Linked DNA regions of Homo sapiens: all the other regions are linked to region 2. A link means that fine-mapping ties the variant in region 2 to the plasma level of a protein whose gene starts in the linked region. Region 2 holds a variant in brackets. A gene starts in each other region. All regions are shown on their reverse strands. Region 1 holds the start of CCL17 (C-C motif chemokine ligand 17). Region 2 overlaps ZFPM2 (zinc finger protein, FOG family member 2). Region 3 holds the start of PER3 (period circadian regulator 3). Region 4 holds the start of TGFB1 (transforming growth factor beta 1). Region 5 holds the start of FGF2 (fibroblast growth factor 2). Region 6 holds the start of SPINT2 (serine peptidase inhibitor, Kunitz type 2). Region 7 holds the start of CLEC1B (C-type lectin domain family 1 member B).

Evidence for each region. PIP is the chance, under the fine-mapping model, that this variant and not a neighbour inherited with it causes the effect. The UK Biobank Pharma Proteomics Project read protein levels with antibody pairs (Olink). The fine-mapping took linkage between variants from a reference panel, not from the people measured, so its PIPs are less certain.
Region 1: CCL17 starts here. The variant in region 2 is fine-mapped to the plasma level of the CCL17 protein (UK Biobank, PIP above 0.99).
Region 3: it holds the start of PER3, and the variant in region 2 is fine-mapped to the plasma level of the PER3 protein (UK Biobank, PIP above 0.99).
Region 4: it holds the start of TGFB1, and the variant in region 2 is fine-mapped to the plasma level of the TGFB1 protein (UK Biobank, PIP above 0.99).
Region 5: FGF2 starts here. The variant in region 2 is fine-mapped to the plasma level of the FGF2 protein (UK Biobank, PIP above 0.99).
Region 6: SPINT2 starts here. The variant in region 2 is fine-mapped to the plasma level of the SPINT2 protein (UK Biobank, PIP above 0.99).
Region 7: it holds the start of CLEC1B, and the variant in region 2 is fine-mapped to the plasma level of the CLEC1B protein (UK Biobank, PIP above 0.99).

The regions. Positions count from the first base shown.
Region 1 is chr16:57,402,365-57,406,428 of GRCh38, reverse strand. It overlaps CCL17 (C-C motif chemokine ligand 17), which reads right to left and starts at 1,662. Exons shown (of 4, transcript NM_002987.3): 1 at 1,593-1,662.
Region 2 is chr8:105,567,690-105,571,765 of GRCh38, reverse strand. The region is part of intron 4 of ZFPM2 (zinc finger protein, FOG family member 2); the gene reads right to left. Among named protein-coding and RNA genes, the nearest start is that of ZFPM2, 250 kb to the right of the region's middle. The variant T/A (reference allele first, on the strand shown) is at 2,466.
Region 3 is chr1:7,783,502-7,787,566 of GRCh38, reverse strand. PER3 (period circadian regulator 3) reads right to left here and starts at 3,276. Exons shown (of 22, transcript NM_001377275.1): 1 at 3,191-3,276; 2 at 2,562-2,913; 3 at 1,981-2,126; 4 at 731-846. The coding sequence starts at 2,689. RefSeq lists a silencer at 3,201-3,810.
Region 4 is chr19:41,352,888-41,356,887 of GRCh38, reverse strand. TGFB1 (transforming growth factor beta 1) reads left to right here and starts at 2,966. Exons shown (of 7, transcript NM_000660.7): 1 at 2,966-4,000. The coding sequence starts at 3,844. B9D2 (B9 domain containing 2) reads left to right here. Exons shown (of 4, transcript NM_030578.4): 4 at 1,875-2,471. The coding sequence ends at 2,188. RefSeq lists enhancers at 2,089-2,590, 2,514-2,663 and silencers at 2,664-3,193, 3,344-3,413, 3,714-3,793, 3,954-4,000.
Region 5 is chr4:122,824,281-122,828,356 of GRCh38, reverse strand. FGF2 (fibroblast growth factor 2) reads right to left here and starts at 1,526. Exons shown (of 3, transcript NM_001361665.2): 1 at 1,005-1,526. The coding sequence starts at 1,182. RefSeq lists enhancers at 1-43, 1-95, 84-223, 96-621, 904-983, silencers at 569-863, 1,204-1,683, cis regulatory regions at 2,183-2,221, 2,222-2,292 and promoters at 1,349-2,316, 1,485-2,667.
Region 6 is chr19:38,263,502-38,267,562 of GRCh38, reverse strand. It overlaps SPINT2 (serine peptidase inhibitor, Kunitz type 2), which reads right to left and starts at 2,990. Exons shown (of 7, transcript NM_021102.4): 1 at 2,565-2,990. The coding sequence starts at 2,670. RefSeq lists a silencer at 2,966-3,285 and an enhancer at 3,442-4,061.
Region 7 is chr12:9,996,905-10,000,980 of GRCh38, reverse strand. CLEC1B (C-type lectin domain family 1 member B) reads left to right here and starts at 1,860. Exons shown (of 6, transcript NM_016509.4): 1 at 1,860-1,944; 2 at 2,601-2,699; 3 at 3,702-3,821; 4 at 3,981-4,076. The coding sequence starts at 1,881. It also overlaps a transcript of CLEC12A not described here.

The sequences.
Region 1 (4,064 bases), not on the chromosome of region 2:
TAGTTTAAGCAACTGGTCCACTGTAATCCCAGCACTTTGGGAGGCTGAGGTGGGAAGATCGCTTGAGCCCAGGAGTCTGAGACCAGCCTGGGCAACATAGTGAGACTCTGTCTCTACAAAAAAAATAAAATGAAAATTAGCCAATCATGGTGGTGCACGACTGAGCCATGACTGTGGCACTGCGCTCCAGCCTGGGCAAAAGAGCAAGATTCCATTTCAACAACAACAAAATAAATCTGCTTCATGGGCACAGAGCTAGCTGGTGGCAGGAGCAAGCCTGGGCTTCTGTCCTAGACTTTGTTTTTGCCTCAAGCAACCTTCCCTTCCTCCCTGACATCATCTACCCCAGATCTTTTACCTCTGGATAAAGACTTCTTTTTTTTTTTTGAGACGGAGTCTTGCTCTTTCGCCCAGGCTGGACTGCAGCAGCGCTATCTCGGCTTACTGCAAGCTCCACCTCCCGGGTTCACGCCATTCTCCTGCCTCAGCCTCCCAAGTAGCTGGGACTACAGGCGCCCGCCACCATGCCCGGCTAATTTTTTTTTTTTTTTGTATTTTTAGTAGAGACGGGGTTTCACCGTGTTAGCCAGGATGGTCTCGATCTCCTGATCTCGTGATCCACCTGCCTCGGCCTCCCAAAGTGCTGGGATTACAGGCGTGAGCCACCGCACCTGGCCTGATAAATACTTCTTAAATCTCTGTCTCCAGCCCTGACCAGTAACTAATCAGACACACCCACCTGGACACTCCTCCTTCCGGCCCATCTTTCTGTGGCACCCCTCAGCTCTCTCTGCCTTGCAGCCTGGCCAGCTCTGTGCAGTTCTGTCCCCCACACTAACCTGTGAGCTGCTGGGAAGCAGAAGTCTGTCCTGCTATGGTTCACTCAGCCCCAGGTACCAGAAGGGCAAAACCGAGTTCCCTCTCACACCAGCCTCCTTTTTTTCTGTTCAAGCCAGCATTGTTTCCCATCTCCCCATCTGCCCCCAAGTCTGAAACTTTGCCCTTGACTCATTCCTCGCCTCCATCCCCCACATTACATCAGGCAGAGACTCTGCCCAGCGCTGTCTTCAGTGGGAGCTTGGCTTCCTTGCTTCCTTCTCATCTCCACTGGCTCAGCCCTCATCCTTCACACCCAGAGAGTCTCAAAAACTTCTGGGCCTATTTCTTCCTCTCTGGTCTCTCCTGACACCTCCCTCATCAGCTGCATGCCCACATGTGGTGGATCTTTCACAAGGGCTGCCCTGACCATGTAATGCCCCCTTCCTCCAAAACCGTCAATGGCTCCCTGCTTCCTTCCCCATCCAGTCAAAACTTTTCAGGCCAATCTTGAAGCTGTACCTTCCATCTAGCCCCTCCTTCCTATTCAGTCTCATCTCCCTGCTCCCCAACATTGAGCTTTCTTGAGGGCCAGTGCGTCCCCTCACTTTGTGACTTGGTTTGCTGCTTCCAAACTCCTGTCCCCTTCTTGTATGGATTATCTTCCCTTGATCCAAAGTCCATCCACCGCTCATCTAACACATGCCCTGAAAGATCCAGCGAGGGGGTCACCTCACAGTGGAGGGGTTAGGAGCAAAGACTCTAGGTCAGGTCACCTGGTTTTGAATTCAGCTCTCCCATCAGCAGGCGGTGACACTGTGAGCTCAAAGTCACTTCTCTCTGAGCCTCAGTTTCTACAGCTGCAAAATGAAAATAATAACAATAATTACATTAGAAGGCTTTGGTTTGCATCAACTGCCTTACTGCTTATATCTGGCAAATAGTACACGTTTCTGACTTTAAATATCATCTATATGCCAACCACTCCCAAGTTTCTCTCGCAAACTCCAGCCTCCTTCTACGTCCAGCTGCCTACTCGCCATACCAAATAGGCAGCTCCAACCCCCCAAGTCTGAAGCTGAATTTCTGATTCCCACCCACCCCTACACCTGCTCTCTCCTCCTTCTCTGCCAGCCCCTTCCTTCCGGTTACTAGGGCCAGAAACCTGGGCGCTATCCCTGACGCCTCTTCCTCTCGCCCCCAACTTCCCATCTGTTGGGTGAGCTCATGTCTCTGCTTTCCAAATACACCCAGAAACCAGCATCAATCCCTGGCTTCCTACAACTGCCTTCTGGGTGCTCTCCCTGTCTCCATCCTTGCCCCCTACAGTGTATTCTCAGCACAGCAGCAGAGGGACCATGAATCTCCCGTGTTCAGAACGTCCCCGTGGCTCTCCACCTCACGCAGAGGACAAGTCCAAGACCCTCCAGCAGCCACGAGGCCCCGCGAGTTCTGTGCCCTGCTCTCTGCCCACCTGTATCTCCTGGTTCCCTGGTTCACTCTGCCCCAGCCACCCTGGCCTCCTCCCTATGCCTCAAACCAACCAGACAGACATGCTCCTTCCTGAGGAGGTTTGCACGGACTGTTCTTTCAGCCTGGAATGTTGTCCCCAGATACCTGCAGGACTCACTCCTTCACCTTTTTCAAACTTTTTTAGGCCGGGCGTGGTGGCTCACGCCTGTAATCCCAGCACTTTGGGAGGCCGAGGCAGGTGGATCACTTGAAGTCAGGGGTTCGAGACCAGCCTGGCCAACATGGTGAAATCCCATCTCTACTAAAAATACAAAAATCAGCTGAGCGTGGTGGCAGGTGCCTGTAGTCCCAGGTACTTGGGAGGCTGAGGCAGGAGAATCACTTGAACCCAGGAGGCAGAGGTTGCAGTGAGCCAAGATCACACCACTACACTCCAGCCTGGGCAACAGAGCAAGACTCTATCTCAAAAAATATATATATATATATATTATATATATTTATAATATATATAATATATATTATAAATATATATTATATATATTATAAATATATATTATATATATTATAAATATATATTATATATATATAAAATATATATTTATAATATATATAACATATATATAATATAATATATATATTATAATATATATATTATTATATAATATATATAATATAATATATATTATAATATAATATATATATTATAATATATATTATAATATAATATATATATTATAATATATATATTATATATAATATATGTTATATATATTATAATATATATATTATATATATTATAGATAATAATATATATTATATATATTATAGATAATAATATATATTATATATATTATAGATAATAATATATATTATATATATTATAGATAATAATATATATTATATATATTATAGATAATAATATATATTATATATATTATAGATAATAATATATATTATATATATTATAGATAATAATATATATTATATATATTATAGATAATAATATATATTATATATATTATAAATATATATATGTATTTGTTTAGATTACATCTTTCAGTGAAGTCAAATTGCATGCCATCCCCATCTCTTCCTCTGCTCTTTTTTTTTTTTTTTTTTGCTGAAATGCTTATATCCTCTGACATGCTAGGCCATTCGCTTACTTATGTCTGCTGTTTACTATCTGTCTCCCACCTGTACCCCCACCCCCATCCTACTGGGATGTAAGTTGCATGGGACAGAGGTTTCTGTTTCTTTTCTTTAATGGAATATATCTCGGCACATGGTAGGCCTTCAATACATAGTTTTTGGATTAAGTGAGTGAATGGATAAATGGCTGGTGTTGTTCCTGAAGCAGAATGCAGAAACCCTTCTTGTTACTCTCACTCTTACCAATGGACTTGTCTCAATGTCTCTCTGATGCCTGGGCTCCAGGACTTCTGAGCTTCCACTCAAGCCTTGTAAATGAGTGCCTTTTATTCATTGCTAGAGTCTGACTCTCTTTCCAAGGAACATCTGTCCCTGTTTCCAAGCTACTTCAAAGGCAGGTCTATGGTCCCCTGATGACATTGGGAAAATTTGAGGTTCACCCCTCAGGGTGTAGTGACAGAAGTCACTGAGAACTCAGAAGTCCTCTGCTCCTAGTCTGGCAGCCTGCCTGCAGTCGGGGTGGGGGGATTGTCCTGCCAAACTCGACCCTCTGGGCACCCGAGGAAGATCTGTTCAGCACCAGGGTCAGTGACAAGCACCCAGCATCCTGGGAAGAAGCCTCACAC
Region 2 (4,076 bases):
TTTAAGACCAAACTGAAGGAGTACAAACTGGTACCTATCTCCATTCTCTCTGTTATCATCTCCAAGTTACTGAATGTATTAATTGTCATGTCAAGCTGAGATTGATGCTAAGTCCTCATAATGCTGGCACAATATTTGTTACAACCATGTAAGCATATCCTGCCAAACTAATTGTTTTGAAATCAGTATAGAATGACAATTCCTCAAAAACATCAAATAGAAAGAATTTAAAAGGCATGCCAGACCTATCAGCACATAACAGAGGACAGTTTGGTCAACTCCATGAACAACTCTTCCTCACAGTGCTTTGTTACTTCTACCTTCCCCTCCAGGGAAAACTACATTTCAAGATTGATATTTTAGAATTTGTGTTACAAAAACAATAGTTATGCTTTACAAACCACTTCCTCACTAGTCAAGATGGTGATAGATTTCCCTAGAGAGGCAGGGATGCTATATATCCACCCACTTCCACCTTAGGCCTTCATGATTCTGTTTTTGGCAAATACGAAGAAATGACAGTAGCAATGAAATCTGCATTAAGAAAATTCATGTAAGGATCCCTATGTGTGGGAACAATCACAACTCCCACAAACAGTATCTGGAGCTATAAATCAATAGTGATTCTTCATCCTTCACACCGATCCTCTGTGGGAAAAGGTTATGTGACTCATTTGTCTCAACTTTACACACATAGAGTGGATCAGCTTTGATCATCTTATGATGACATAAACAATTCCTCCTTTCAGAAATTAATTAAATTAATAGCACTAATCGTCCTAATAACTGAAAAGATCATCTTCAACAAAAGTTCTCCTTGGAGTTCTGGGAAAAGGGAACAATGAATAATCTTGTAAAAATAATTCTTTTTAAAAGTTCAAACTTGGCCTAACTAAGGGTAAATAGGTTTAGCCATATAAACCAAAGGCCAAAATGTATTAAAATTTCAGGCAGAGGAGAGTAAGTTAGGTCCATAAATAAAATTGTCTATGTATAGCAAGGAATTGTGTTTCCACCTTTCAAATCCAAGTCCAAATGTAAAGAACCTGGAAAGACTTCACCATCAGGAGAAAAAGTAAGTCAGGATGAGATTGAGGTTAACAGGCTAGCTATACACAAAAGGTATTATTTTGGAGGCAAGTAAAAATTATCAGGAAGGGCACAAATTCAGGTTTTCATTTCAATACCATTGTGCCATATGACAATGTATTTTCATCCACTGCCAACATCATAACTATATCTGCATTATAACACAGCAAATCCCTTCAGATTAATATGCAATTGACCTCTCTGGCTTCTACATATTTCAATTGTGAAATAATTCTTCGGTGTTTAATTTCTTCCTTTCTGACTCACATTCAATAGCAGGCCTTTGATTACTGAGGCCTCCACACAAACTTCTTTCTCCTCTTTCCCTGAGTAATCCCCCTCCATCAAAAAAAAAATAAATAAAAATAAAAATCAATAAAACAACAAAAACCCTACCCTAATTCTAGAAACCAAACCAACGCATCACTTTCCAAGGCTCTGCTGCATTACATTTCTTGCCTTCAAGTCTTCTTTGAGCAGCTTTTCTGTCCACTCAGTTTCCATTAATTCTCCACATAGCAGATAGAGTATAAGAGAAGCCAGGATCTTGCCCTCCCTAAGGGACAAATCTACAACCTCCATCAATAATGAATTTCACCAATGTTTCCCAAGAGGAACAGGGTACAATTAAAAAGGTTATAAGTCCTTGCACTACTAGAACCTAAGGGCGTCTGTGAATGAAACTGGCTTAAGCCCAATTAGAGGAATCAGTACATTTGTCTTCTCTTGGAACAATCTTGCTCTTACGGTTCCCATCAATTCAGTATAAATCTGACTGATCTTATCCAAGAAGTTAATAGAAAATTGCTCACAGTGGGCGACTGCCACCTCAGTTTCCAAGCAGAGACAGATGGAATTTCCCAGATGGTTTGTCACTGGAACGTGTGAGGCTGGATGAGACTTCACAGAAAGCATGGTAGAGCAGAACACCTTCTTGGCCTTCACCCATGTCATAGTGAGGGATCTAAAACTGAGTCTGTTGTAAACAAATCATAATTGCCTCACTAGGCGCAACACCTCATCCTCCTAGCTGCATCCAAGGGTTGCAAATCTTACACCGAAATTAGTCAACTTTTCTCAAGAAACCATCATGGGCATATCTCCTTATGAGATAAAAACTGAAGAAATAGACATAGTTATCTTGTCCTACTGAAGTTTCCTCTCAAACGAGACTAAAATAAAAGTGCAAGTCTATAAACAAATAAAACAGGTACAAGATAGCATTTCCTGTGGTAATTGCTCTGCTGAGTTAGGCAGATGAAGCAAGATCACAGACGAAACAGACATGGATGTAAAGCCTCAGGAAGGATGCAGGGTCTTGAATAAGGAGGGGTGTGCAGCTGTTCCTGATATGGAGAAAAGTGAAAGGAAAAAAT[T/A]AATGTGCTGATTCATTCAATGTTATTCATTGAGCTCTTAGTATAAGCTAGACATTGTTCTAAGTGGGAAGGATAGAAAGATAAAAAATAGATAATAAGCATATGGTCTGCAGGGGAGATAGACAAGCAAACAGGAGCTCACAGTTATGTGATCAGTGCTCTTATCCTAGTAAACCTAGAGCACCAGGGAAATACTCCAAGAGTGGTTATCTATTCCAGACAGGAGGCTTCAGAGAAGGTCTACCTTGGAAGTGACTTTGAGCAGAGTCTTTAAATAAGTATTGGACTTAGTGAGATGAAGAGAGATAGGTGGGGAGGGGGGAATAGGGGTTTCCAGGAGGATAAAACAGCATGACCAAATGTACGGATGTGGAAAAAAAATGGACATTCAGGGCACTGCATGTAGTTCAGAATGCCTAAAGTCTATAAGAGAGTGGAAAAGGGGTCAGAACTGGGGAGGTGAGCATCACCTGGGGAGGTGAGTAACAGGAAGGCCTTTTTTAGGCTTTACCAAAACCTTGGGGTATTCTCGTGCCCTTTAGAATGATTTTAAAGCACAGGAGTTAAGTGACTACTGTAGTTTTGCTTTCAGGACATACTGTGGTCTGAGTAAATAAAAAGATGACAAGAGAGAACAGAAGAATATTGTAATAATCAAGAGAGAAGCGGTGGGGCTTTCGACTAAAGCAGTGGTAGCAGGACAGAAAGAGGAGAACAATCATTACGAAAGCAGGAGTTATGATGCTTGGTTTCTGGACATGAAATGGAGAGTCTTGGAAGATGTTTGACTCTGAATAGAAGGAAAAAGAGATGGTAGTAGTTACAGGCAAAAGGAGAGAGGTATGGGTATGTGTAACTGTGTGTGAATAGCATTTGAGATGTGAGAAGGAGAGGTAGAAATGCAGAAAAGACACAGGATAATTGAGAGAATGGACTCCCTGCAGAGGTACGAAAGGAGAGGCAGAGGACTAGGATTAAAGGTGACTGAAAGCTGGAAGTCATGGAAAAGAGAGGCTGTCTGTGGAGACAGGAATAAACTCTCTTTGTGACTGTGTAGTTGGAGGAATTAAATGGGAAAGCTTGCAAAACAGTTGAAATGTGCTATTAGAGAAAGGGTAAAAAGCCAAGGTTAGAGATTTTTTTATTTAAATGTCATTTGTAAATTAGTAGCTGAAGCTTTGCAAGTGGATAAGCTCCCTGAGGCACTGGGAACAGAGGGAGAAGAGAAGAAAGGCCAGAAGTGTTTTGGGAAACACTCACAGTTAAATTAAAAAGAGCTAAGACCCAGAGAGATATGAGAAATAGGAAAGTATGGTAGTCCTGAGCCCAGATTAAAATGAATATTAAGAAGGAAGATATCATTCACAATGTCAACATCAATGAAATCTGAGGCTCAACAAAAAGTCATGCCTCAGCAAAATTATAAATTATGCCATTGAGATGGGAAAGATGGAGAATATGGGTGGAGTCAGTGAGAATGTTCCTGATAAGCAAATTCAATTCGATTAGATTTTTATTTTAAAGAGCAGTTATTGAATACCGATTATGTACCAGTAGTAGAGGTCCAAAATTGAATAATAAAGATTAAATAATTCTATGTCCTCTAGAATC
Region 3 (4,065 bases), not on the chromosome of region 2:
GCATACTTTCCTCTCTAGCTTTATTTTAAATATCTTAAAAGACAAATATTTTCTTAAGCTATTTTTAAAAATCTCCATAGCACCTCCTACAGTACTATGTACACACCAGTCCATAAAATAAGCACTGTTATAATACTAGGGATTGCGCACGTTCCACTATTACAAAATCTTTAAGTAACAATTATGTTACTTAAAATAAGTAATCTCCACCGTATCAACCAAACATGAAGATTACTCTGTCAAACAAGAAGAGAGATTAAAAAAGATATACTAAAGGTCTCTTCCAAAATTTTAGGAAAAATGACAGCATCTCAACTCACCTGTTCTATAACATCCAGTTGTTACAACTTGAAGTAGTAGGTATTGGAACTAAGAATGATATAAATAGAAATTAACAATTCGGAGATTAGAATAAGGTGCAGGAAATTACTCTGCAGTGTAATTTTTGTTTTCTCTTAATTCAAGAGAGCTTGGGAATGCTAAGGAGCTAGAAGCACCTCATAACCAAAGTCACTGAGCTGCACAGCACACAGAACGGGCTGCTTCTGCTTTTAGATGTTTTCTCTGGCAAGGGCGGAGAAGCTACACCATGCCTCTTTAGCAGTTCCTCCTTTGCTTCTCTCAAATTGTGGTTGCTGAAACGTTGTTATCCTTCTTAAAAGCCTACATCTAGAGCAGGCCCTTAGGAAAAGTCACCCAGGTTGATATGGCAAAATGCATGAATTCTTACTGTGTTTTTGGAAGTGTGTTCTGAAGCGATAGTGGCCAGCTCCTCAAGACTGTACATGCTCACATCTGCCTGAGGTGCTCCATTCTGACTGAGAATCTGGAAAAACTCACTGTTTGCTAAGAAACACAGGGAGATAAACAGGTAGTCCAGTGACAACAGTATCTTTAGGAAACCATTTCATCACTATCAAGCTGGATTATTTTTTTCGGATGAGAACACCTCAGTGCATTTTTCTCAAAAACAGATCATTTTCTGCTTTTACCTAAAATACTGATAGTTGTGCAAACTTAAGATTTGATTTTATGAATTCTGCATGTTCTGGATCACAGGAAGCAAGATACATTTAAGGTACTAACTAAAAATTTCAGATGCATACACAATTTTTTTGCGGGGGGAGCAGAAACAGTACTCTGTCATTCAGGAACATATCATATATGAAGCACTGAGGTTTGTGCTAAAGAGAATATGGCTTTAATGAAATCCCTGGAAATGTCAGAGAGAAAAAGTGTTTACAATGGTTCATTTTTAGTTTGGTAAATTCCTGATATATCATTACTGCATTTTTATCATTATTATTTTTTAGAGACAGAGTCTCGCTCTGTCACCCAGGCGGGAGTGCAGTGGCGTGATCTCGGCTCACTGCAAGCTCCGCCTCCCGGGTTCACGCCGTTCTCCTGTCTCAGCCTCCCGAATAGCTGGACTACAGGCGCCCGCCACCACACCCGGCTAATTTTTTGTATTTTTAGTAGAGACGGGGTTTCACCGTATTAGCCAGGATGGTCTCGATCTCCTGACCTCGTGATCTGCCCGCCTCGGCCTCCCAAAGTGCTGGGATTACAGGCGTGAGGCACCGCGCCCAGCCTCATTACTGCATTTTGAAAGTATGTGTACGGCATGTAAAGGTAACTATTTCGTGGAATGCATTTTTTTCCCATAACTTCCATAGAAGACAATATTTCTTTAAAAGGTCAGCCTTCAAAATGTGCTTATGCTAAACTCTACTCTCTTGCAACACATGAGCAAAACATTGCATAGGTATTATACACTATTATACAGATAAAGTTTTCCTGGTCTTTCACATGTGAACAATTAAGACACGAATGGAATCGGTGTAGATTTGCTCATCTTCCACAAAGCACCAGAAAAAGCTCAAATTATTTGTCTGACTGAGACCCCACTGACCACTCCTCTGGCTGCTTGTATGAGTCCTGGTGCATTCGTAGGATGAAATTTCTCTCCGGCTTGTTTACCTTGAACGCTGTGGACACAGCGGAGAGCATAGTTGAGGGCATCTAGAGTGCTTGGTTTATTGCGTCTCTCCGAGGGGAAGTATTTTTTCATTTCTTGGACAACCATGATAAGTTCTTCAGAAACTCTGTTTCGATCTTGCTGTTCACTGGAAGATAAAAAAAAATTACAACTTCATCCTCTGAAGACAACAGCATCTTGCGGCTTAGGGAACACAAACTGCAAGCCAGGTAAGTTTCTAAGTGCTCTACCGGCATCAGTCCACAGGGTGGTGACCCCTCTTCCTCTAGGTGGGGAACTCGAGGCAAAGCAACTGGTGAATGACAAACATTCTCCACTTACTTTCCCTTAATCCACTTGAGCCCCAACTCAGCTAACTTTTGTAACCACTTTTCCCTCCTGATACTCTTCGGTAATTTTCTTCAGTGTCACGGATCACTTCATCCTACATTGCCCGAGTCTCCCCTTTACACTTTCCCCTGGGCTTGAAAACAAAAGAATAAAAAGATTTAGGTCCCCCTTTCCCTGCTCCAGGGAAGGACAACGAACGCATGGGGCCCTCGGCCTGAAGCCAGCGCGTCACCTGTGGCTGCTGTCCGCCAATTTCCTCTGCAGATGGAACTCGGGGCTCCACCGCTCCCCCGATTCTTCGCCCAGGGCCTCGTCCTTAGCCCCCCGTCTCCCGGGGCCAGGAGCTTCCCCGCGGGGCATCTCGAGGTCTCCGCGGGGCTCCACGTCGTGCTGGGACGGCCCGCAGCCTGCTTCTCGCTCACTTTGCAGTCAGTGACAGACACCGGTTTCTCACTCCGGTCCCCGCCATGGCGTTAGTGAGAACAGGCGGCCACCACGAGCCAGGGGGTCACGCTCATCTCCGAGGAGCTTTTCCCTCCAACATTTTCAAAACCCGGAGCTCGCTCGACTTTCAGGACTCCGGCCTAGGGGGAGGAGACAAGGGTGACAAGGGACAAATGGAACAGACAGTCCGACGCCAGCGGCCCGGCTGGCTGGGGCGCCCCGACCGCGCGGTCCTCACCCCTGCCCCAACTTTCCCGCGCGCCGAGGGATGGGGCCCGGGGAGGCGGGTGGCTCGGAAGCGCCACGCTCCGGGGGCCCCCAGTACCGAGGGCAGGGCTCGCGGGGCTCCTCTGCCGCGCGCGAGTGCCCAGAACTCCCGCCCGGCCGCCCAGAACTCCCGCCCGGCCGCGCACTCACCTGCTGCCCCCGCCCTTGGCCCCGCGCACAGCCGCTCGCCCCCGGGGCCGCCCTCGCGCAGTCTCGAGGCTCGCCGCGTGCCGGTCAGCAGCCGGCGCCGCGCCCCCTGCCGCCGCGTGACCGGTCCCGCCCCCGGGCCGTGCGATTGGTCGTCGGGGCCGACTCCGCAGGCCTCCATTGGCCCTGGGGCGGGGCGCGAGCCGGTGCGCCCGGGTTATATAAGCCAGGGCGAGGGGGCGGGGCCCCCGGGGCGCGTTACATAACGCGCGGGCTCGGGCGGAGGCCGGCGCTCGGCCAATCCCAGCAGGCCGGCGGGCGGGCAGGGGACGGGGTGGCCCTCAGCGGCCTCAGGCCTGTGCCGCGCGACTGGAGTGTCCGGCCCCCTGGCACGGCGCCGGGGCGGAGCCGCTGAAGCCAGCGCAGAAATGATAGGGCCAGGAAGCTGCCAGCCACGTGGGGGCGGGACCCGGGCTCTGTGGGGCGGGGCGGGTCCGGCCCAACCTCCACGTGAGAGGCGGGCGGGGAAGGAGAGGGGAGTGAGAGGCGGGGGCAGAGAGGGGCGAGAGGCGGAGTCGGGGGGCTTGAGTCGGGGTCAGGGGGAGGCTGGAAATGGGGACGGATGGGGGCGAGAGGCGGGGACGGGGGGGCGGATGGGAGCGGGGGTGCCGAGAGACGTGGGGAGCGAGAGGCAGGGGCGGGGGGGCGACGGTGTCGAGGGCGGGGGCATTAGAGGGAGGGAGAGGCGGGGACTGGGGGCGAGCAGGGGCGGCTCAGGCCAGCGCTCTGGGGTCGAGTCCTGGAGTTTGTAGGTGGCTCCCGGCTGCCCGAGCGGGTGTGGGGAGGAGCCCAGGGTGGGGCGGGCTGCCGGCAGCGGT
Region 4 (4,000 bases), not on the chromosome of region 2:
GGTAATGGACAAGTGAGATTTCACCTTTTTTTTTTTGGAGACAGAGTTTCACTCTGTTGCCCAGGCTGGAGTGTAGTGGCAAGATCTCAGCTCACTGCAACCTCTGCCTCCCAGGTTCAAGCAATTCTCCTGCCTCAGCCTCACGAGTAGCTGGGACTACAGCCACGTGCCACCACATCTGGCTAATTTTTGCCTTTTTTTTTTTTAATAGAGATGGCGTTTCACCAAGGTGGTCAGGCTGGTCTCGAACTCCTGACCTCAGGTGATCCACCTGCCTCGGCCTCCCAAAGTGCTGGGATTACAGGCATGAGCCACCGCGCCTGGCTGAGATTTCACTTTTAAATAATCTTTCTGTCTTTTAAGCTGGAGCTGGGGAAAAAAAAAATCTTTCCGGTGCTGTGTGGGTGAGGTGGGCAGCTCTAACCTTTCAGCTCTTGGGGCCTCCAGTCCCCCAGTGGTGGCACCAGCCTTGCTTTCTCTTTTCTCAAGCCCCCATTTTGTCCATCAGGAAATCTTAAACTGCCTCTACTTTTGAAATACATCCTAAATCCCACTTCTTACCCTTTTCTCGCCCAGCACCTTGATCTGTCCAAGTTCTTCTCTCACATGGACTATGACAAGAATCTTGTCTCTGGAGTCCCCTTCCCCAACCCCCCTGGTCTGCACCCCACATGCAGCTGGGACCCTGTGAACACCTAAGTCAGGTCCCATCTCTGCTCTGCTCAGAACCCTCCAATGGTCCCCATCTCACTCAGGGTGAAAGCCATAGTCTTAGCATGCATCACAAGGCTCTCCACAACCAGGCTGGCACCTCCTTCCCGTCTCCCCACCTCATTCTGCTCTAGCCATGCTGTCCCCACCAGGCACACTCCGTCTGGGCTCCAGCCATACTGTCCCCACCAGACAGTCCCCCCCCAGGGCCTTGGCACTTGCTGTTCCCTCTGGCTAGGAGCACTCTTCCTCTAGATGGCCACATGGCCTACTCCCTTCCTTCCTTTTAGCATTTGCTCAAATGTCACCTTCTTAATGAAGCTTCCTTGATCCCCTTCTTGCTAAAGCGGTATCCCCACCCTCACCCTACCCAGCTCTGTTTTCCCTCACAGCAATTACCACCATCTGATCTACCCTATAATTTGCTTATTTACTACATTCGTTGTCTAGGATATCAGCTTCACGGGGGCAGGAATTTTTGTCTGCCATCCATGTTCATGTCTGCCGTGTCCCCAGCTAGCTAGAACAGAGTCTAGCACAGGAGAAGGGATCAGCATGAGATGAGATGGGGCTGGATCTCCAAGGGCTTTGACTACCAGACTGAGGAGCTGAACTGTGTTCTGAGGACATGGGCAAAGCTATGGAAGGAGAGAAAGATGCTTCCAGATGCCAGGTGGAAGGTGGATTAGAGAGGGGCAAGAAAGAAGGCCCTGGGCCCAAAGAGAGCAGGGCAGGGACATGAGGGAAGGCAGGAGGTGTCCCTGACAAGGCCCATGATGGTTACCTGGGGACTGGAGGAGCAATGGGCTGCCCTGACATGGGGTCATGGAGGAGGATAACACAGAGAGGAAATTCAGCAGAGGTCTGATTAGAAGGGCCTTGAATGTTGAAGAGGTTGGACTTTATACTGAGGGCACTGGGGAGCTATGGAAGGATCCTTAGCAGGGGAGTAACATGGATTTGGAAAGATCACTTTGGCTGCTGTGTGGGGATAGATAAGACGGTGGGAGCCTAGAAAGGAGGCTGGGTTGGAAACTCTGGGACAGAAACCCAGAGAGGAAAAGACTGGGCCTGGGGTCTCCAGTGAGTATCAGGGAGTGGGGAATCAGCAGGAGTCTGGTCCCCACCCATCCCTCCTTTCCCCTCTCTCTCCTTTCCTGCAGGCTGGCCCCGGCTCCATTTCCAGGTGTGGTCCCAGGACAGCTTTGGCCGCTGCCAGCTTGCAGGCTATGGATTTTGCCATGTGCCCAGTAGCCCGGGCACCCACCAGCTGGCCTGCCCCACGTGGCGGCCCCTGGGCAGTTGGCGAGAACAGTTGGCACGGGCTTTCGTGGGTGGTGGGCCGCAGCTGCTGCATGGGGACACCATCTACAGTGGGGCCGACCGCTATCGCCTGCACACAGCTGCTGGTGGCACCGTGCACCTGGAGATCGGCCTGCTGCTCCGCAACTTCGACCGCTACGGCGTGGAGTGCTGAGGGACTCTGCCTCCAACGTCACCACCATCCACACCCCGGACACCCAGTGATGGGGGAGGATGGCACAGTGGTCAAGAGCACAGACTCTAGAGACTGTCAGAGCTGACCCCAGCTAAGGCATGGCACCGCTTCTGTCCTTTCTAGGACCTCGGGGTCCCTCTGGGCCCAGTTTCCCTATCTGTAAATTGGGGACAGTAAATGTATGGGGTCGCAGGGTGTTGAGTGACAGGAGGCTGCTTAGCCACATGGGAGGTGCTCAGTAAAGGAGAGCAATTCTTACAGGTGTCTGCCTCCTGACCCTTCCATCCTTCAGGTGTCCTGTTGCCCCCTCCTCCCACTGACACCCTCCGGAGGCCCCCATGTTGACAGACCCTCTTCTCCTACCTTGTTTCCCAGCCTGACTCTCCTTCCGTTCTGGGTCCCCCTCCTCTGGTCGGCTCCCCTGTGTCTCATCCCCCGGATTAAGCCTTCTCCGCCTGGTCCTCTTTCTCTGGTGACCCACACCGCCCGCAAAGCCACAGCGCATCTGGATCACCCGCTTTGGTGGCGCTTGGCCGCCAGGAGGCAGCACCCTGTTTGCGGGGCGGAGCCGGGGTGCCCGCCCCCTTTCCCCCAGGGCTGAAGGGACCCCCCTCGGAGCCCGCCCACGCGAGATGAGGACGGTGGCCCAGCCCCCCCATGCCCTCCCCCTGGGGGCCGCCCCCGCTCCCGCCCCGTGCGCTTCCTGGGTGGGGCCGGGGGCGGCTTCAAAACCCCCTGCCGACCCAGCCGGTCCCCGCCGCCGCCGCCCTTCGCGCCCTGGGCCATCTCCCTCCCACCTCCCTCCGCGGAGCAGCCAGACAGCGAGGGCCCCGGCCGGGGGCAGGGGGGACGCCCCGTCCGGGGCACCCCCCCGGCTCTGAGCCGCCCGCGGGGCCGGCCTCGGCCCGGAGCGGAGGAAGGAGTCGCCGAGGAGCAGCCTGAGGCCCCAGAGTCTGAGACGAGCCGCCGCCGCCCCCGCCACTGCGGGGAGGAGGGGGAGGAGGAGCGGGAGGAGGGACGAGCTGGTCGGGAGAAGAGGAAAAAAACTTTTGAGACTTTTCCGTTGCCGCTGGGAGCCGGAGGCGCGGGGACCTCTTGGCGCGACGCTGCCCCGCGAGGAGGCAGGACTTGGGGACCCCAGACCGCCTCCCTTTGCCGCCGGGGACGCTTGCTCCCTCCCTGCCCCCTACACGGCGTCCCTCAGGCGCCCCCATTCCGGACCAGCCCTCGGGAGTCGCCGACCCGGCCTCCCGCAAAGACTTTTCCCCAGACCTCGGGCGCACCCCCTGCACGCCGCCTTCATCCCCGGCCTGTCTCCTGAGCCCCCGCGCATCCTAGACCCTTTCTCCTCCAGGAGACGGATCTCTCTCCGACCTGCCACAGATCCCCTATTCAAGACCACCCACCTTCTGGTACCAGATCGCGCCCATCTAGGTTATTTCCGTGGGATACTGAGACACCCCCGGTCCAAGCCTCCCCTCCACCACTGCGCCCTTCTCCCTGAGGACCTCAGCTTTCCCTCGAGGCCCTCCTACCTTTTGCCGGGAGACCCCCAGCCCCTGCAGGGGCGGGGCCTCCCCACCACACCAGCCCTGTTCGCGCTCTCGGCAGTGCCGGGGGGCGCCGCCTCCCCCATGCCGCCCTCCGGGCTGCGGCTGCTGCCGCTGCTGCTACCGCTGCTGTGGCTACTGGTGCTGACGCCTGGCCGGCCGGCCGCGGGACTATCCACCTGCAAGACTATCGACATGGAGCTGGTGAAGCGGAAGCGCATCGAGGCCATCCGCGGCCAGA
Region 5 (4,076 bases), not on the chromosome of region 2:
AAATTCCATCAGTGTTGTAAATCGGCTCATCTTATGCCCCTTTCTTTCTCTTTCCTCTAGACCAGTGGCTCTCAAAGTGTGATGTGATCAGCATCCCCGGGGAACATGTTAGAAATGCAAATCTTCAGCCCCCACTCCAGACTTAGGGAATCCCCTAAAGTCCAAGCACTCCTTATTTAGGCCAGTGTTCTTTCTAGAACCACAAACATTGTTTCTTACAGAAAGCAAAACTGCAATTCTCATTTCATCCTCAAGCCTGCTGCAAGGTAGTAATATATTAGCCCCACGTGAGCGATGAGGAAACCGGCTCTGGGGTTAAGCGTCGGCTCAAGGTCTCAAAGCTAGTCACTGCAGGTGGAAGATTAAAGTGTTTGCACTTCTTTTCACTACTGAAACAAAGCTATGGCACTTTATTAACAACATCTGGATTTTTTGCTGGTTGGCTGGTTGGTTTTTGTTTTTGCTCTTTCAGCTTTCGTCAATTCGGAAAAATATAAAACAGAGTGGGTGAGAGTAGTGTGCCATATGCCTCGGGTCGTCCCGAGTCGGAATTTAAGGGCAGGACTCTAGAAAGGTGTTTTTCCAGTAAAGACCGTTTCGTTCTGCTGCGGTCCTTCCTGTCTTTGTCCCCGGGACAGCACGCAGCAGATAGAAGCGGCCAGAGCTGCATGGCGGGGCCGCGGGCATCCCCGACGCGACAGGTTGTCCGCGGGAAGACAGCCAGTCCGCGAGGCCCCGGCGCGCCGCGGCTCCGGGCCGGGGGTACTGGTTTACAGGGCAAATTGGCACACCCCAAAGCCCAGGGGACACCCGGGCCTACGCCGCAGCCCGGAAAGGAGGGGGTGAGTGGTGAACCCGAAACCGCCGAGGGCCGCGCGGCCAGAAACCACACGGAGCGCTAGGGTCGCAGTGAAGATCCGGGAGGAGGGTGCAGGCTGGAGGGGAGAGAGCGGGCGAGAACCCACGAAATGGAAATGAGGCGGAGAGAGCGGGTCGGCACTCACTGTGAGGGTCGCTCTTCTCCCGGACCCCGTCAACTCGGCCGTCGGGGTGGATGCGCAGGAAGAAGCCCCCGTTTTTGCAGTACAGCCGCTTGGGGTCCTTGAAGTGGCCGGGCGGGAAGGCGCCGCTGCCGCCATCCTCGGGCAAGGCGGGCAGCGTGGTGATGCTCCCGGCTGCCATGGTCCCTGCGGGGCCCGGCCGGGATCCCCGAGCCGCTGGAGCCGCGCGGGGAGCCGCCGTCCCCCGGCCCCGGCCCCGGCCTCCGACCCGCTCCGGGGCACGGCCCCGGCCCCGGCCCCCCAGCCTCCCGCCCGGCAGCGCGCGGCCGCGCCCGCGGTCCCCCAGCCTCGAGCCGCTCGGCCGCTCTTCTGTCCGCCGGCCCCTGGTGCGCGGCGAGCCGGCGGCCCGGGACCTGGGGTTCACGGATGGGTGTCTCCGCGGACGCCGCCTGGGGAGAGCCGCCTCCCAAGCTGCAGCGCCCGGGATCCCGTTGCAACCGCGGGCACCGCGTCCGCTAATCTGGCACCCGCCGGGCCGCGGCGTCACATCTTCTACATCTCCACCCCCCACACCCACCAGCCTCCCGCGCCCCCAGTTCTCCTCCCTCCTGCGCGCCGCCCCCTACTCGCTCGGGTTTTCTGGGGCCGGCCTCTGAGTTCGGCGGTTCGGCCACAACACGCAAGCGCGCGACATCAGTCCGGCGGGGAGCCCGGCCTCAGTCGGGGGCGGGGGAGAGGCGAGGGGCGGGGGGCGCGCGTCGGAGGCCGCGGCAGGGCTTTGGCATTCCCTGGGCTCCACCGCCCCTTATCCCCCAAAAGTCACCCCCGCCCAACCCCCGCACCACCCAAACCACGTTTAGGCTTTCTCCACACTGCGGGGCTTTTGCTGCGCAACCAGCCGTGACTCAACTTTTAAAAGTTTAAACTCAACTTTCTCCCCCATTTTTTCCCCGCTAGCGTTTCAAAACGGAGAAGCCGTTTCCACCCCAAAGTAGAGAAGTTGCAATCCAAGGAAGAGTCTGTGTCAGAGCAGGCTTTGAAAATCTCTAAATCACCAAAAGACGAGGGGTACAAGTGGGGCATAAACTTTAAAATTAAAGGACAGAGGCTGAAGTCGTCTACCAACAAAAGGAGAGAAAGAGGCCAGAGAAGGGGAGCAGATTGGGTTGCTAAAACGAAAAGGTTTCCTTTACTGACCTATCTTGAATTAGACGACGCAGAAAGATGAGGATGGGGATAAGGATAAATCCTTATCGCGATCGAAGCGCATTAATGTCTTAACTCGGACCTGGCATTTGCCCTAGCTAAATTGTTATGCATTTCTTGGAGAGAGAGTTATTTTCTGTAAATCCCAAATGTAAAATTGAAGTTAATTGCATTTTGGTAATTTTCAGTAGGATATAGCAGGTGCCACAGATGACTAGGAAAATATCTATTCAGAAAACTTGCATGTATTGAGTACCTACTGTGTGCAACACATAATGTTGAGTGTGTGGGAGATGCCAAATCTGATGCCAGCGTCTCACACACTGAGGGAGATAAGATGGGTAGCATGAGTAACACAAATAGCAGTAGAAAGTAGGCCATAGAAGAGTAAGACTAAGTGCTGTGACATTTCAGACATCGGATAACTCAGCGTGGGGAGGCAGGAGATTTGGGGAAGCTTCTAGAAGGAGTTGCAAGTATGGACGTGCCTCCTTGTAGAAACATTAGGTTTCAAAAGGCCATGCATAAGTGCATTTGTTCTTAAGTCTCCAAGAAGGCTTTAACTCCAGATGCATTTCTAGAATGTTACATACAGGAGAATGAGTAAATTCTTTGAAGCTTTAAAACCAGGCATACTGTTTTTATTTTTATTATTTATTTATTTTTTTTAGACAGAGTTTTGCTCTTGTTGCCCAGGCTGGAGATCAATGGCACGATCTCGGCTCACCGCAACCTCCACCTCCTGGGTTCAAGCGATTCTCCTACTTCAGCCTACCGAATAGCTGGGATTACAGGCATGCGCCACCACCACGCAGGGCTAATTTTTTGTATTTTTAGTAGAGACGGGGTTTCTCCATGTTGGTCAGGCTGGTCTCGAACTCCCAACCTCAGGTGATCTGCCCGCCTCAGCCTCCCATAGTACTGGGATTACAGGCGTGAGCCACCGCGCCAGGCCCAAAACCAGGCATATTCTTCTTTCTTCTTGCAGTTGGTATATGTTCTATAGAGGAGGAAAAAAAAAATTTCCCCATTCATTACTAGGTTTATGGCTGAAGCCCCTGTAACAAAAGACACATTAACAAGAGAAAAACATACTAACTTATTTATGTGAGTTTTACACAAAACAGGAGACTTCAGAAATTAAGACCCAAAGTTAAGAGGGAAGCCTGTGTATTTTTAAGGCTAGGATTGATAAAGAAGTGGAAGTCATGGAGAAGTATGATTGGACAAATCTGTGATCTAATGGTAATAAACTGGGGGGACTTACTTAGCAAGGCCTATTTGCTCAGATTCTTTTCCCTGTCCGTGTGTCTTCAGAGATAAGGATGTCTGTTTCCTCCAGGTATAGGGAAGGCACCTCTGGAATGAAGGTCTTATGGTCTGCCTCAGAAGAGAAGATCTGGGGAAAGTGAAAGTAACCCTCTTGCTTCTGCTCTTTTCTTAAGTGCCAAGGTACCATTATTTTTGGGTAGCATGTCCTGAACGCCATCAGTTCTCTAACATCTCTCTCCAAAATGGATTTGTTTCATCTTCATTGAAGATCCGTCTGTTGAGACAAAATCACTCCCTCCAGATGATCTCTGTAGGTGCTACTGTGGTGCTGAGTAGTCCCTAGAATGATTGAACTCTCACTTGAACTCTGTGTCACAGAAACCTGAGGATTCCAGGAGCACGGGGATAAAATCTAAGTCATGATATTTTTTAACAATGGCATCCAGAAACCTGGGGAGCAGCTACACGCAGTAAAATAACTTGTATTCCCTACAATTCAAACAAATAATCTAATTTTCAAATGGGAAAAGATTTGAACAGACACTTCTCCAAAGAAAATATACAAATAGCCAATAAACACATGACAAGGGGCTCAAC
Region 6 (4,061 bases), not on the chromosome of region 2:
TGCATCCTATCTGTCTGGTTCATTCCCTTCAGAACCTCAACTCCAACAATCTGCTGGCCCTACCATCTACCTCGGCCCTCCGCCCCCTCATGTTTTCATACAGAATAAATTCCTTGACCAACCCCCATCCTCCCTCCCTCACACATTCTCTGTTCACTCCTCCCTCACCACCACACTCATCCAGCAGCACCTGAGCCACTGCATGGAGCTTCAGCAACACCACACTCCCAGTGGATGACTCGCTTCCGGAGAAAACAGAAGCAATCAGGAAGGAGCGAGGAAAAAAAAGTCAAAACTGCCTTCTGCCTCCGATTAAGCTGTTCAAGCTTTCAAACAAACAGAACTTACGATGAGTGAGGGCATGAGTTCACCCAGTCAGACACTAGTACTTCTGAAAGGTCAGTAGGTCCAGTCGGCAGCAGCAGTCAGGTAGGCCACTCTGAACAGAGAAGGCCTCTGCAGTGAGACCTGGCTTTGTCAATTACTACTACCGAGTGACCTCGGGCAAGGCAAGTAACTTCACCACCGCACCCGGCTGTTTCAAAGGTTAAATGGCACATCCCAGCTCAGAGTAAGCACCAGAGGTAGCAAGAGGCCATGTCCCAGCTCAGAGTAAGCACCAGAGGTAGCAAGAGGCCAGGTAACTGGGAGGTACATCCTAACGTAATTACTTAAACTGAAAAAGTCCAGCAGAGCTGCCAAATTCTGGTTCGAATTGCAAGAATGATCAACGTCTGCATTCCTGACTCCCAGTCACCTACAGCTGAGCCTCTCCCCACCAATTCACTTTTTTCTCCTGCCTAGGGCACAGAGAAATTAACCAGTCCCCAGAAGTTACCACAGGTGATGACTTGGTACACACCTAGCCTGCTCTTTTTTTTTTTTTTGAGACTGAGTCTTGCTGTGTCGCCCAGGCTGCTGTGCAGTGGCTTGATCTCAGCTCACTACAGCCTCCGCCTCTGGGCTTCAAGCGATTCTCCTGCCTCAGCCTCCCGAGTAGCCGGGACTACAGGTGTGCACCACCATGCCCAGCTAATTTTTGTATTTTTGGTAGAGACGGGGTTTCATCATGTTGCCTAGGGTGGTGTTGAACTCCTGGCCTCCAGTGATCTGCCCGCCTTGGCCTCCCAAAGTTCTAGGATTACAGGCATGAGCCACATCACCCGGCCTTCTTTTTTTTTTTTTGAGATGGGAGTTTCACTCTTGTTGCCCAAGCTGGAATGCAGTGGCGCGATCTTGGCTCACTGCAACATCCGCCTCCCGGGTTCAAGCACCAGCACCTGTCTATAAAGCCCTAGGCCATCTGGCTGCAGCCAACCTCTCCCACCTCCCATCCTCCTCCAGTCCTCCCCTCCTTCACGCCTGCTCCAGCCAGGCTGGCTCTGTCTTTTCCCTGAACCCAACCAAGCTTGTTCCAGCTTCAAGGCCTTTGTACTCTATTGCCTGCAACTGGACACTGGTCCCCCAGGTCTCCGTGTGGCTACTGCCTCATTCTTCATGTTAGAGCTCAGATGTCACCCTCCTCACGGAGACGTCCCCCGACCACCTGAGCTAAAGCCGCCCCCAACATCTTACGTCACCCTGTTGGTGTACTTCACCTGGTTCATTTAATTCTCAGTAACTTAATCTCATGGCAAGTGCTTTTTAAACCTTCACTAGCTCTGCCTCTCCCACTGGAATATTAGCTCTGTGAATGCAGGAACCCAGCTAGTCTGAGTTAACTGTTATAACCAGCGCCAGTGCCTGACACGTAGCAGGGCCTCAGTAAGTTTTGCTGAATCAATGAATTCTTGCTTTCAAGAGAGCTCTTTTCAAAACACGCTGGTGCTTGTCTGAAGCAGTTAAGGTTATAACAACACTTGTTCAAAGAGACCTTTCAGACCACACTTCCTTAAGAGTGTAGAAGTTTAAATCACCTTATTCACCACCGACTTCTAAGGGCCAATCCAAAGACCCCAACACCAGCTGCTCAACGCCAATACTCTCTCGAGCCTTAGCAGAGCTTCCTCTTCCCCAAAGCTTGTTTCCTTTCTTGCTCCCTCCTTCTCGGGCACCTACTTTACTGCAACTCAACTACAAAAACTTCAGGGGAGGCTCTTGTCCAATCTCCAAAGAGGCAGGGGTGAGATGGGCTTCTTCCGAGTCTAAAACGGCCACCAGGTCACCCAACCCAACCCCCACCATCTCACAGGCCTGGCCTCTCCCTGAGCTTTGGCCATGGAACTTTCCACCGCCAGGAGAAGGCTGGTCTTCAATTCGGCTCCTCACCCCGTTCTTGCCACAGGAAGGGGCAGTGCCACGCCTTCTTGGTCAATACCCCTTGACTCTTCCTCCACCCGAAGGAAACTCTCCTAACCCTCGCTCCTCCGCCCGTCTTCGCTGTCGAAGGCTCCCAAACCTCATTTCAAGGCTCAATCCTCCAGGGCTGGTTCCACCACACCCGCTGAACGCCATCAAGTAGCCCCCAGTTTCCTCCCCCGCCAGTTCTCCCTGCTCAGACCCCCGTTGACCCCCGAGCCTCTGCCCCCTGCGCCCCGCCTCCAGCCTACCCGCCCGGCCCTCACCGTGGATGCTGCGTTCTCGGTCGGCCGCCAGGACCCCAGAGAGGAGCAGCGATCCCAGCAGGGCGAGAAACGCCCGGCTCCGCCTCAGCCCGCACAGCTGCGCCATGGCCAGCTCAGCCGAGACGCGCAGGCGACGCCACCAGCCGTTGGGGTCTCGCGATCAGGTGCGGGAAGCCCCTCAACGCGCACGCGCAATGGAGCGCCTCGCGTTCAGGTGCCGACGCTCCGGGAGGGTCCGCCAGGTGCCAAAGCCCCCGGAAGTCGCCTTTCCGGACCTTCAGTGTGGGGACGCCCGGCCTTCTCGGCGCGCGATGCCTGGGTCTGCTCCTCACTCGCGCCCTCGCCGCCTGCGACACTCAACGGCCCTCAGCGCGTTCAGAGCCGCGCTACACCTCCCAACGCGCGGAGGTCGCCAGAGCCAATGGCGAACGCCTATTGGAAGCGGCTCCCGAAGGTGGCCGGGCAGGCAGGGGGCGGGGCGCACCTGGCTAGGCAGGGCGAGCTGGGCGCAGGCGCAAAGGGCAGGCACCTGCGCGGCCGCTCCCCGGCCCTGGGCGCACCTGGGCCCGCCCCTGGTGCCGGGGAAGAGGCGGGGCTTGCGCGGGCCTCGCCCCCAACAGAACCTGGCGGGGCGGGGCGGGGCGTCTGCCCGCTGAGCACCTGCCACCCTTCCCTTGGGCTTGGTGACGACGTCGGAGGAGGGCCTTCGCTCTAGGACTGGCCTCAGGGTGGGAGGAGGGGGCGGCAGACACGCGTTTCTTGGAAGCCTGTGGTTTTCTGCCCGCCTCGCCGCAGCTTTCCTGTGAATTCCTTCCTGAATTTCAAAGTTCACTGGGCTCATGCTCCAGGGCTTAATGCTGGGGACCCAGCGGTGGCCATGCCAGACTGGTCCCTGAGTCACCAAACAGGAACGGCCCAGAGTAGTGATAGCGGAAGCTTAGCACAAAGTGATGAAAGCTGTGATGGGGAAGGCCAAGCTTAGGGATCAGAGGCTGGGTCGCTAGAAAACCAGGGCATGATGGGAGCCCAGACAGCTTTCCCATCCAGCCTGAGAGAGGGCCAAGGAGGGCTTCCTGGAGGAGGTGATAGGCCCATGCAAAAACAGCCCCGAGCCCTGGCTCCAAGGTTCTCAGGACAGATATGGAGACAAATACTTAGCACAGGCAGCATCAGAATTGAGAGGAAGGAAGCCCCTGGGGAAACCCAGAGAAGACACCTGACCAAGCCTGGGAGTCAAAGAGGGCTTCCTGGAAGAGGAGTTACGTGAACAGACTCTAGAAAGGGGAATGGAGTGGGGCAGGCACACGAGTAGAGGATAGCCAACAAGGTAATCAACATAAATGCATTATTATTGAAAACACTTTTAGATTATTTCTTTTTTTTTTTTTTTTTGAGATGGAAGTTTTGCTCTTGTTGCCCAGGCTGGAGTGCAATGGAGTGATCTTGGCTCACTGCAGCCTTGACCTCCTGGGCTCAAGGGATCCTCCCACCTCAGCC
Region 7 (4,076 bases), not on the chromosome of region 2:
TAACCTCCACACATTTTCTTTTCTCTCTGTTACTTTGTCACAGTTATTTATTCGATTATTTTTTAGTGTTTCTGTATATTTTAGGTAACAAAACACTGAAGGAAAGCAGTGACCAAAAGAACGTGAAAGACAGGGGTTACTGTGACAGAATAGCCTCAGGACTTGCTGATGAGTAGATGTAGAAAGGAAGGAAGAGAGGGAGGATCAAACCCCATTCCAACCCCAATCTTCCAGAAAAGCCTGAGGATAAATGATGGGAGAGCGAAGAATCCCTTTTAGCTGAAACAGAAGTTATGAGAACAGAAGCAGTGGTAGATGAATGGTAAGTGACTGAATTTACCCAGCTTATGATTGGGAACCCCTGAATATTTTAACTGAGATAAGAAACACAGCAACAAAAATGGTGTTGGGATTTAATGTTTTTTAAAAATTTTTAGTCTTTTCTTAAAATTTGGCATTTATTTCAAATGTGTTTTTTTTTAATTAAGAATTAGTTTTGGTAAAAATATTTGAATCATACTAAGTTTGGCTTTCCAAAATCAGGGAATGTCTTTTATACGTGTTATGCTTATTCTTCACCTCATTCTCAAAATAATTTGAAGAGTATAGAGAAAGAAATTTAGAATGAAAGATAATTTTAAGTGAATTGACAAGAAATTCAGAGTGAAGGAGATAGCAGGGGAGAAAAAATCTACGGGCTATGCCAAAGGGCATGTTAATAAACAAAATATCTGCTACTGCAGCCCACATAATCACTATATTGAAAAGTCTAACACTCTGCTAAGTAAAGAAAAATAGAATTCAAATTATTTATAAGGTAAATGCCTACTACTTAAAGCTTTGCTAGTCATGGTGATTTAACAAAAATAAAAATCTGCCATAAAACTATGTAAGAGTTACCCTATGGCAAAATAGACAACATCCTCCCCAATATTCCTATAATAAATGCATCAGCTAGCTTTGTATGGCTGTTCTTACAACTACTTTCAGTGCAAGCTAAAATAATGTAAAAGCCCATTTCATAAAGTTAAGTGTGTGCAATACATATTATATTGTGATGAAAAGGTGCTAGGAACCATTCAGTCTCAAATATTCATCTAAGCACAGCTGTACTTGAAATGAAGTGATTTCATCAAATCAAAATTCTTCCATTCCAGGAAACTCACTTTAAAGCACAAACACTACTAAAGAACAATGCAGCAAGTCACCAACTCTGTATTATTTTACTTGATTTGATAGTTTTCCTTCAATACCTAAATCTAAGCAATATCAGGCCTGCCTCATGTGGATCCTTCAAATAAAAAAAAGTATGAAATATGCAAGAAGTTGTGTAAATTCTAGGTCATAATCAGGAATGATCTCTTCCAACACAAGACTATGAAACAGCTAATTTAGCCCCTATCAGATCCAATTATATTACACTTGCTTCTCACAATGAGATAAACTATATATCTGCTGGTGAGCTATATCCATGAATTTTCAGCAGAAATCTCTCATTTGAGCAATGTAATTTAGACTAAGCTAGGGCTAAGATAAAGCATGAACTTTTGTTCTTAGAAAGGATGCACATGATGGAATGTCCCTTTATTTAGTGTTGAAGATAAAAAAAAAGCAGGAAGCAAATACCTTATCTACTCCTTTACCACAAGTTATTATTATTTTTGTGTTTTTGTGTTCAAGGTCCATGTATCTCTGAGCAGCTATGAAGAAGCTTCCTGGAAAACAATAAGCAAAGGAAAACAAATGTGTCCCATCTCACATGGTTCTACCCTACTAAAGACAGGAAGATCATAAACTGACAGATACTGAAATTGTAAAGTTGGAAACTACATTTTGCAAAGTCATTGAACTCTGAGCTCAGTTGCAGTACTCGGGAAGCCATGCAGGATGAAGATGGATACATCACCTTAAATATTAAAACTCGGAAACCAGCTCTCATCTCCGGTAAGAATGCTCAGAGCCAATAATTTGGAAATTAATTTAAAAAATGAGTTGATTCAATTCTTTCTTTTTCTACTATTGATAATATATATAGTTTAATTTCTTTTTCTTGAATGATGTTAATGCTCTAAAGCATTTGAGTAGTGTTTTCATAAGCTCATACAGACCTATTTAGATTACAAACATCCAATATATGTGCAGGGAAAATTGCATTAAGATTCTGAGCGTTTAATACTCGAGGGCATAGAAGTCAAGGGGATAACGGAAAAGAGTGGAAATTTCATTTTCTATATGTGAGCAAATGAGTGTGATTCTTCATTTGCTGTTTATTAAAGCAATTATTTATGGCATGGGTGAGCATAAAACAAAACAAAACAAAACAAAACAAAACAAAAAATACAAACACATCAGGCCTTAACAGCAAGTAATATTTCAGCTTGGAGAGGTAAAGTGCATTGGAGATGAGAATGGATGTATGGTATAGGGGTGGGCCATGCCTATTGTTGATGATCATGAGGAGAACACAGGTGAGATCTGCCAGCAAAGCTCTTTCTATTACTTGGAGGACCCTGAGAAGGCAGGGGCAGGGGCAGGGGTGAGCCTTCCCCATAGCTAACCCATACTGCCTGCTCCTTGATGTCTTTATTATATGCCTACAGTTGGCTCTGCATCCTCCTCCTGGTGGCGTGTGATGGCTTTGATTCTGCTGATCCTGTGCGTGGGGATGGTTGTCGGGCTGGTGGCTCTGGGGATTTGGTGTAAGTGTTGACTCTGCCAGAAATTTGACTGGAGGAAGGTAATACTGAAGGGTCATGGCATATCCCACTAAGCTTCTCAATGGTCGCTATTTGTCTGTTTATCACTTCTACAGTTGTCCTACAGATAGTTGCCAAGAGAATCTCAATAAAGGAGAACACTGACTGTTTCCTTGTGATTAAAATAAGATTTTAAGATTTTAACTAATGAAAAGTTATTTTTAAGAATGTACTACTGGCCTTTAAGACCCTCCTCAGTGTGGATCCAAACTATTTTTAAAAACTTTTTCATCCCTTTTCCTATCTTGCATTCCTAAGAACCAGCCAAACTGGAGTTTTTCAATTTCATATATAAATTCCATGTTCCCTTGTCTGAAATTTTTCTCATTCTATTCTCTCTACCTAAAATTTTCTGTTTCTCATTTTGTTTACTAAGTTACTGTGCATTTCTTCTTTCTGTAATTCTCATGGCCCTCCAATAGCACATTGAAGTCTGTGTAGTTGTTGCTTGTTTGTGTATTTGTTGATTTTTTTAAAAGATGTTAGAATCTAACATTTATCCTCTTGTATTTCTTTATTATTTACCTGAATATCACAAGTACTTTAAGCATAACAAGAAATCAGTATGTATTTTTAAATGAATGAATAGTTTGGCATCACAGAAAGAACAGAAAATAAGAGGTCATTCACCTCTATAACTCAGCTGAGAAGCTTGTATTCAAGCAAATGAATACAGGCTCTGGGGATGTTATCGATGTTGGGATTTTTTATTTGTGATTGTCTCCTTCAAACAGTTCACTTATTAACCCTCAGGCGTCAGTTCTGTGTATTTCTTAATTTGTTCTTTATAGCCCCTCCACACTTTTCAACATTCATTTAATCATGTGTATCTAGTAAACTCCTCATATATTGGCAAAGTTAAGGAAATGAAAATTCAATGACAGACCTTTGCATCATTTCTATGGTTCTAATTACAAATTATTATTATTTACTTTTTAAACCTAGCTGTCATGCAGCGCAATTACCTACAAGGTGAGAATGAAAATCGCACAGGAACTCTGCAACAATTAGCAAAGCGCTTCTGTCAATATGTGGTAAAACAATCAGAACTAAAGGGCACTTTCAGTAAGTATTGTTTTTTTAACCTCTTCATCTCTCCAACCCCTGGAGCATTTCTCTGATGGCAACTGAAGGGAGTTTGAGATCTGCAGAAAACATTGAATGTGAAGAAAATGTAAGCCCAATTTAGAAAAAATACACCATTCCTGTGCTTGGTTTCTCCAGAAGGTCATAAATGCAGCCCCTGTGACACAAACTGGAGATATTATGGAGATAGCTGCTATGGGTTCTTCAGGCACAACTTAACATGGGAAGAGAGTA